Regions from separate parts of the Homo sapiens genome. Here regions 2 and 3 are each linked to region 1. Evidence: fine-mapped expression QTL. A gene starts in region 1. Each other region holds a variant in brackets. All regions are shown on one strand. Distances are between the middles of the regions. Region 1 holds the start of MSANTD3 (Myb/SANT DNA binding domain containing 3). Region 2 overlaps MSANTD3 (Myb/SANT DNA binding domain containing 3). Region 3 has its middle 41 kb from the start of CAVIN4.

What was found. PIP is the estimated chance that this variant, and not a neighbour inherited with it, causes the effect.
Region 2: its variant is the best candidate, but not a certain one, in a credible set for the expression of MSANTD3 in unexposed skin (GTEx, PIP 0.55).
Region 3: its variant is the best candidate, but not a certain one, in a credible set for the expression of MSANTD3 in whole blood (Lepik 2017, PIP 0.67).

The regions. Positions count from the first base shown.
Region 1 is chr9:100,425,760-100,428,516 of GRCh38, reverse strand. MSANTD3 (Myb/SANT DNA binding domain containing 3) reads right to left here and starts at 1,374. Exons shown (of 3, transcript NM_080655.3): 1 at 1,124-1,374. RefSeq lists silencers at 878-997, 1,038-1,267, 1,308-1,537.
Region 2 is chr9:100,450,512-100,453,268 of GRCh38, reverse strand. MSANTD3 (Myb/SANT DNA binding domain containing 3) reads right to left here. Exons shown (of 3, transcript NM_080655.3): 3 at 1,535-2,712. The coding sequence ends at 2,303. The region is part of intron 1 of MSANTD3-TMEFF1 (MSANTD3-TMEFF1 readthrough); the gene reads right to left. Among named protein-coding and RNA genes, the nearest start is that of MSANTD3-TMEFF1, 10 kb to the right of the region's middle. The variant T/C (reference allele first, on the strand shown) is at 1,604.
Region 3 is chr9:100,617,366-100,620,122 of GRCh38, reverse strand. No RefSeq gene overlaps it. Among named protein-coding and RNA genes, the nearest start is that of CAVIN4, 41 kb to the right of the region's middle. RefSeq lists enhancers at 66-566, 567-1,067. The variant G/A (reference allele first, on the strand shown) is at 1,190.

The DNA of each region.
Region 1 (2,757 bases):
CCTGGTGCCTTCCTCTACATCTTCCTCCAGGACTTCAGAATCCTTCTTCTCCCCCTTGTCCATCCCATGTCTCTCTCTGGCCCTGGACTCCCACAGCCATCCTCAATCCTAACTCAGAAACTATGTTTTTTAATTAATATTCAGCAATTTCCTTGGAATACAATCATCTGCTCTGACATGCTGAAAGGCACACTCTCTGGCCCTGATATTATCCTACCTCCAGTTTTAAATGTATGACAAATATATCCCTGCATCCTATAACTACTCTCCTCGATACTGCAGGAACGTCTGTAATGTTAAATGTTATCACGCCTAAGAAATACCCAACCTCCTGAATCGGAATAGGGAGACTAAATTCTTCACTGTTTCGTACTCCTAAATAAAGATTATTCATGCAATTTACAGTAACTACCTCACAGCGCCAGGGTGATGATTCAATGATAATTCATGCCAACTGTTTAGTACCTAGGGCCTGGTACATACAGAGTGCTCAAAATTTAGCTGTTATCATTTACATACATTATCTTTCACAATAGTACCTGAGGGTAGATATTATACCACGCCCCCCCGACCCCCGCCTCTAATTTACAGAAACAGTAGCCCCGGCTCGGAGTAAAGGAGCTTTCCCAAGGTCAGTCAAGCAAGGATGTGATGCTCGGCCTTCATCCTGCAAGTGAGGGATCCCTCCCGTTACACTCTGGACGGGCGGGGCACTGGAGGTCTTAAAGGAGACAAGTATGGAAAAGCGCCGAGCACAGTGATCAGCACACAGTGGGGACGCCGGGATGGGAAGACCGCGGTACTGCAGGTCACCTGGATTCCCCCCGAGCAGCTCCCCGAGCCCGGGAGTCCAAAGCCCACCCCGCTCCCAGCCGTGGGCGCGCCACTGAGTACCCCAGAGGCCCGCGCCCCGGGGCTTTGTAGGCAGCAGGCCGGCCCTACTCACCGAGTCCCATCGCGGCGCGCAGAGGCGGCCGCCCGGCGCCCAGCCTGCAAGGCCGGGGTCGCAGCGGCTCGGCCCGAAAACCCTCCATGCCGGCCCCCGGCCCCCTCTACGCCCGGCCCGCGCCCCCCACCCCCGCCCCCGCCCGGCTGCGGCCCGCCCGGAAGGGGAGCCTCCTACCTGCAGCGGCGGCGCGGCAGCCGCGGCGACCGGGGGAGGGGCCGGCGAGGCGCGAGGGCGGGCGGCCTGGGCTCCTCTCGCAAGCAGGGCGGCCGGGAGGGCCGCGGGCTCCCGAACGCCGGGCGGCGGCGGCGGCGGCGGCGCGCCCCCGGCCGGCCAGGCCCCGCCGCGCGCGCCGCGGCCACAAAGCCCGGACGCCGCCGCCCCCTCGCGGACCGCCCGCCGCCTGCCGGTCCGTCGGCGCCGCCGAGGAGGGCGGGAGCGCGGCCCCGCGCCAGTCCCCACTTCCCCGAGCTGCGGCCGCCGGCCTCCAGGGGACTGGGGCGGGGCGCGGGGTGCCCCCCCGCCCACCTGCCCGTCCGCACCGACCCCGCTCCTGACATCCTCGGGCTGACGTCCTCGTGCTGATTTAGTTGCCTTTTTTCCCCACCTTTGCAGAGGAGCTCCTGAAGCGGCCCGAAAAACTGTTTTATTTCTATGAACAACAAAAGAATACATTTGTCACACGGGATTTGGCGGCCATGAACACGAGTTAGTTCAGTCCAGGTCCCCCGACTGAAATAGGCCCTTTTCTTTTAGGACTCCTTGATACTTGGGACAGCGAATCCCCCTATGCTGAGTTTATCAGAACTTCTGTTAATTTGTGGAACGTGCCTCCCCCAGGAGAGCGACTGTGCTCACTGGAGCCCAGGACCTGTCTCGGACACTGTGCTGACTCATTTGGAATTAATGCGTGTGTAAATGCATGCACAACAGCTCAAACTGTCGGGACAAGCCACCCTTTGCTCCTCCCGCAAACAGAGTGGCTGGATGTTTCTTTTGCCCTGGATCCATTGGGAAGACTCCAACCCCAGAGAAAGGCAGAGAAGGCTTTTTAACTTTTTTTTTTTTTGAGGTGAAATTCGCATAACATAAACCACTTAAAAGCGAACGATTTGGTGGCATTTATTACATTCATAATGTTGAGCAACCACTTCTATCTAGTTCTGAAACATCCATACTCCATTAAGCAGTAATTCCCCAGTCCCTCCTTCCTCCAGACCCTGGCAACGACTCAGCTATTTTCTATCTCTGTGAGTTTACTTTTTTCTGGGTATTTCATATAAATGCAACCATACAATATGCGGCCTTTTGTGTCGTTTCTTTGACTTAGCCTGTATTTAAGATTCATCCATGTTGAGGCGTGGATCAGTACTTCATTCCTTTTTATGGCTGATTAATATCCCATTGTATGTGTATATTATAATTTGTTTATTCATTCATCCCTTGATAGATATTTGGGTTACTTCCACCTTTTGGCTATTGTGAATAGTGCTGCTCTGAACATGCCTGTACACATATTTGAGTACCTGTTCCCAGTTCTTTTGGATACATACCTAGGAGTGGACTTTCTGGGTCATAGGGTAATTCTATGTTTAACTTTTCCAGGAACTGCCAAAAAGTTTTCCACAGCAGCTGAATGAATCATTTTACATTCCCATCACCAATGTTTGAGGGTTCCAAGTTTCCACAACCTTGTCAACACTTGCAATTTTCCGTTTTTGTGTTTTAATTCCTTGAACATTTTTGAGACTATTGCTTGCCCTCCCAACTCCCACTATCCATAGCCCTAAAGTAAAAACTGATCTAGGTTT
Region 2 (2,757 bases), 25 kb before region 1:
TGGCATAAACCAGGAACTTGTAAGAAATGTAGAATCTCAGACCCCACTCCGTACTCTCTATAAAACGAGGTTCTTAAATGTGTCAATAGGTGAAGCAAAGGCAATCTTTGCTCAGTTCACATGTATGTTTAGGGTCTGCCATTCCCTGTCCTAATTCTAACAGGGTAGGAGGGCATGAATCATCAGATTCTCTCTTCCACAAACCACTGAAGATTGGGACTTTATCCTGATGCTTCTTTCTCTAAAAGGGTCCATTTGGTAAAAACTAAATTAAGAACATAAATCCTTACAAAAGGATCTTTTCTTTCAAAGAAGACTAGTCTTCACAGGCTTTCTTCAAATAACCAGTTCCTCTAAGACATTGAAAATATAATTCGGTGTTTAAAATAAATTCATACCCGTTTTGTGTGCTGTGCATAAATAGCAAGTATATGTGTACCTTACCAAACTTATGGTCCCCAGTCCCCAAATTCCAAAATTATGCAGGAGGGAAGGTTAGCCATTGCAGTAAACAATTTCTCCCTATTGACCCATGCTCTCCAGCTGATTATGATGTGGGCAGTACTCATCCAAGGCTATACAGACCAGCCGGGCGCGGTGGCTCATGCCTGTAATCCAGCACTTTGGGAGGCCGAGGCAGGTGGATCACGAGGTCAGGAGATCGTGACCATCCTGGCTAACACGGTGAAACCCTGTCTCTCCTAAAAAATAGAAAAAATTAGCCAGGCGTGGTGGTGGGCGCCTGTAGTCCCAGCTACTCGGGAGGCTGAGGCAGGAGAATGGCGTGAACCTGGGAGGTGGAGCTTGCAGTGAGCCAAGATGGTGCCACTGTACTCCAGCCTAGGCGACAGAGTGATACTCCGTCTCAAAAAAAAAAAAAAAAGACTATACAGACCACACCATAGCCAAGAAGTTGTAACAGACTTGGAACGTCATCTAGCCCAACTCCCTTGTTCTGTGGACAGGAAACACTACACCAAGGGTTAAAAGGAGTTACCCACATTCATACGGCAACTTGACGGAGAGTTGAGCTTAGAATTCAGGCCCTGACTCCAAGGCCTATACCACTTATGTGGACTCTGCCACATATACTCCTCCTTCCCCACCACATGGCCTTGAACTCTCACTGTCAGAAACTGCTGATCTGCCTTGGCACTTAAGTGTCACTTTGCTGCTTCCAGCTACTGCTGTCCCCAACACCCGGGGCTGTTTTTAACAAGAGGCTACAGGAGAAGCTATACTGCAGCTCAGTCAAAATATCCATTTATCAATCCATATTTCCGAATATGTTGGTAATGGATCCTCAAAAGGCCCAATGCTAATTATGTAATGCCAGCTACAAAGCATTACTACTGGCTAGCACCATGAGCATGGTGAGGGAAGGGCCTTTCCTTTGGTAGCTAAAGACTAAAAGCAAGGGCAACTATCAACTCAGTAGTACAAAGCTGGGAGGAAACTAGAGAGAGAAGAGAAAAACTGGAGCACAGCTGGGAAGGCAGCACCTTTAAAAAACATACACAGTGTGACTATAAAATTGCAAGTCTTTTTTTTTTTTTTAATAAAACCAACATAACAGAATGTAGAAATCTAAACGAACATTTCT[T/C]CCTCAAAGTAGTTACATCCTTAGCTCCAACAAAACTACTATTGTTGGAGACTTATTTAGAACTCCTGTTTGAGGAAAGGCCTTAAAAGGTGGTTTATGAGCCACATTAGAAAATACCCTTCTAAACTTTGGGCTGTTTAAAAACAGAAAATCCATACTCAGAGGATGACACCGAGAAAATTAAAAAGGTGCTGCAGCTCTCACGGAGGTTCCCTAAAGACCTCTAGCAAGTTCTGAGCAACAGCATCACCATTGGAGAAACGTGTAGCCTCCCAGGACAGCCACTTTCCATGGGACGGCATTCATTTGGATAGAAAAGTTCTGCTGTCTGTTTAAAAAGAAAAAAGAAAAAAAAAAAAATCAGCCACACTCCTTTATAGTCACACTTGCATTTGATTAAAAAAAAAAACAACAACAACAACACTCACACGTGGTTCTTGTATGAATTCTAATTAAGAGACATTATATTCAGAATTATAGCACTCATAGTGATAATTTTCAGAAGACTATAACAGCTTCTTTGCCACTTAAGGGGTACAGAGGGTGCAGCTGTTTACCTGAATGAATTCTTAAATAAGTGACTACTACCACTCTAATTTTCCTAGTTGTAGCTCTGTTACAGGTTACTGACCGCCAAGTCCATGTTCCAGACATTCTTTGCCAACACAGATTAATTACAAGAGAGCCACCCCCAAAGTCTTAGGGCGAATTGGGAAAGGGCCGGTTAAATGAGGAAACAGGCCATTCCTTGGTAAAAGTTTGTAGTTTTCTTTCCCAATACATCTTCTTTTTATTGAGAACTTCCATTTTTATCCTGTGTTCCTCCTCTGCCATCTCACACTCTCGCTCTATCTGCTGGATTTTGGCCACATGCACCTCATTCATTTGTATCAGTTGCAGTTGTAAGATGGACATTTGTTGATGGTGTTCTTCCTCATGCATCTTTTTTAAAGCACCTTCCTGAGAGGTTTTGCTCCTGTAGTTTTTATTGGCTGTTATTCTGACAGCTGAACACGAGGGTTCAGGTTGAGAGGTCCCCTCACATACTGGAAAATGTATGAACTCTTTCTCATCATCGCACAGTTCTCTATTTGAAACAGCAAATGATTCTGAAAAACAGTAGCAGAAAACATATGTTCAAAGATTTTACAGGC
Region 3 (2,757 bases), 190 kb before region 1:
TGAATGTGGTCCAACACAAATTCATAAACTGCCTTAAAACATTATGAGATTTTTGCTGGATTGCTGGCAAGATGGACAAATAGAAACAACTCTGGTCTGCAGCTCCCTGTGAGATCAACACAGAAGGCAGGTGATTTCTGCATTTCCAACTGAGGTACTCAGTTCTTCTCATTGGGAACGGTTGGACAGTGGGTATAGCCCAAGGAAGGCAACCCAAACCAGGGTGGGGTATTGCCTCACACAGGAAGTGCTAGGGGTTGGGAAACTCCCTCTTCTAGCCAAGGGAAGCCATTAGGGGCTGTACCGTGCACTTTGGCCCAGATACTGTGCTTTTCCCATGGTCTTTGCAACCCACAGACCAGGAGATTCCCTCCGATGCCTAGACCACCAGGGGCCTGGGTTTCAAACACAAAACTGGGCAGCCGTTTGGGCAGACACCGAGCTAGCTGCAGGAGTTTTTTTTCATACCCCAGTGGCACCTGGAACACCAGTGAGACAGAGCCGTTCACTCCCCTGGAAAGGGGGCTGAAGCCAGGGAGCCAAGTGGTCTGACTCAGTGGGTCCCACTCCCACAGAGCCCGGCAAGCCAAGATCCACTGGCTTGAAATTCTCACTGCCAGCACAGTGGTCTGAGCTCGACCTGGAATGCTTGAGCTTGGTGGGGGGAGGGACATCCGCCACTGCCCAGGCTTGAGTAGGGTTTTACCCTCACGGTGTAAAGAAAGCCACTAGGAAGTTCAAACTGGGCGGAGCCCACTGCAGCTCAGCAAGGCAGCTGCAGCCAGACTGCCTCTCTAGACTCCCTCCTCTCTGGGAAAGGCATCTCTGAAAAAAAAGGCACCAGCTCAGTCAGGGACTTATAGATAAAACCCCCATCTCCCTGGGACAGAGCACCTGGGGGAAGGGGCAGCTTTGGGCCCAGCTTCAGCAGACTTAAACGTCCCAGCCTGATGGCTCTGAAGAGAGCAGCAGATCTCCCAGCACAGCTTTCGAACTCTAATAAGGGATAATCTGCCCTCTCAAGTGGGTCCCTGACCCCTGTGTATCCTGACTGGAAGATACCTCCCAGTAGGGGCCGACAGACACCTCATACAGGAGAGCTCTGGCTGACATCTGCAGGTGCCCCTCTGGGATGAAGCTTCCAGAGGAAGGAACAGGCAGCAATCTTTGCTGTTCTGCAGCCTCTGCC[G/A]GTGATACCCAGGCAAATAGGGTCTGGAGCGGACCTCCAGTAAACTCCAGCAGACCTACAGCAGAGGGGCCTGTTAGAAGGAAAACTAACAAACAGAAAGGAGTAGTAGCAACATCAACAAAAAGGATGTCCACTCAGAGATCACTTCTGAAGGTCACCGACTTCAAAGACCAAAGGTAGATAAATCCACAAAGATGGGGAAAAACCAGTGCAAAAAGACTGAAAAATCCGAAAATTAGAACGCCTCTTCTCCTCCAAAGGAACACAACTCCTCGCCAGCAAGAGAACAAAACTGGACAGAGAATGAATTTGAAAATTGACAGTAGGCTTCAGAAGGTAGGTAATAACAAACTCCTCCAAGCTAAAGGAGCACGTTCTAACCCAATGCAAGGAAGCTAAAAACCTTGAAAAAAGGTTAGACAAATTGCTAACTGCCGTTTTAAAGAAGAACATAAATGACCTGATGGAGCTGAAAAACACAGCACGAGAACTTCATGAAGCATACACAGGTATCAATAGCTGAATCGATCAAGCAGAAGAAAGGATATCAGAGACTGAAGATCAACTCAATGAAATAAAGTGAGAAGACAAGATTAGAGAAAAAAAGAGTGAAAATAAATTAACAAAGCCTCCAAGAAATGTGGGACTATGTGAAAAACCCAAATCTACATTTGATTGGTGTACCTACAAGTGACACAGGGAACAGAACCAAGCTGGAAAACACTCTTCAGGATATTATCCAGGAGAACTTCACCAACCTAGCAAGACAGACCAACATTCAAATTCAGGAAATACAGATAACACCACAAAGATACTTCTCAAGAAGAGCAACCCCAAGACACATAATAGTCATATTCACCAAGGTTGAAATGCAGGAAAAAATGTTAAAGGCAGCCAGAGAAAGGTCAGGCTACCCACAAAGGGAAGCCCATCAGACTAACAGCAGATCTCTTGGCAGAAACCCTACAAGCCAGAAAAGAGCGGGGGACAATAGTCAACATTCTTAAAAAAAGTAATTTTCAACCCAGAATTTTATATCCAGCCAAACTAAGCTTCATAAGCAAAGGAGAAATAAAATCCTTTACAGACAAGGAAATGCTGAGAGATTTTGTCACCACCAGCCACCAGACCTGCTTTACAAGAGCTCCTAAAGGAAGTACTAAACATGGAAAGGAACATCTGGTACCAGCCACTGCAAAAACATGCCAAAGTGTAAAGATCATTGAAAATATGAAGAAACTGTCTCAACTAATGAGCAAAATAACCAGCTAGCATCATAATGGCAGGATCAAATTCACACATAACAATATTAACCTTAAATGTAAACGGTCTAAATGCCCCAATTAAAATGCCCCCAGACTGGAAAATTGGATAAAGCATCAAGACCCATTGGTGTGCTGTATTCAGGAGACCCATCTCATGTGCAAAGACACACATAGGCTCAAAATAAAGGGATGGAGGAATATTTACCAAGCAAATGGAAAGCAAAAAAAAAGCAGGGGTTGCAATCCTAGTCTCTGATAAAATGGACTTTAAACCAACAAAGATCAAAAGAGACAAAGAAGGGC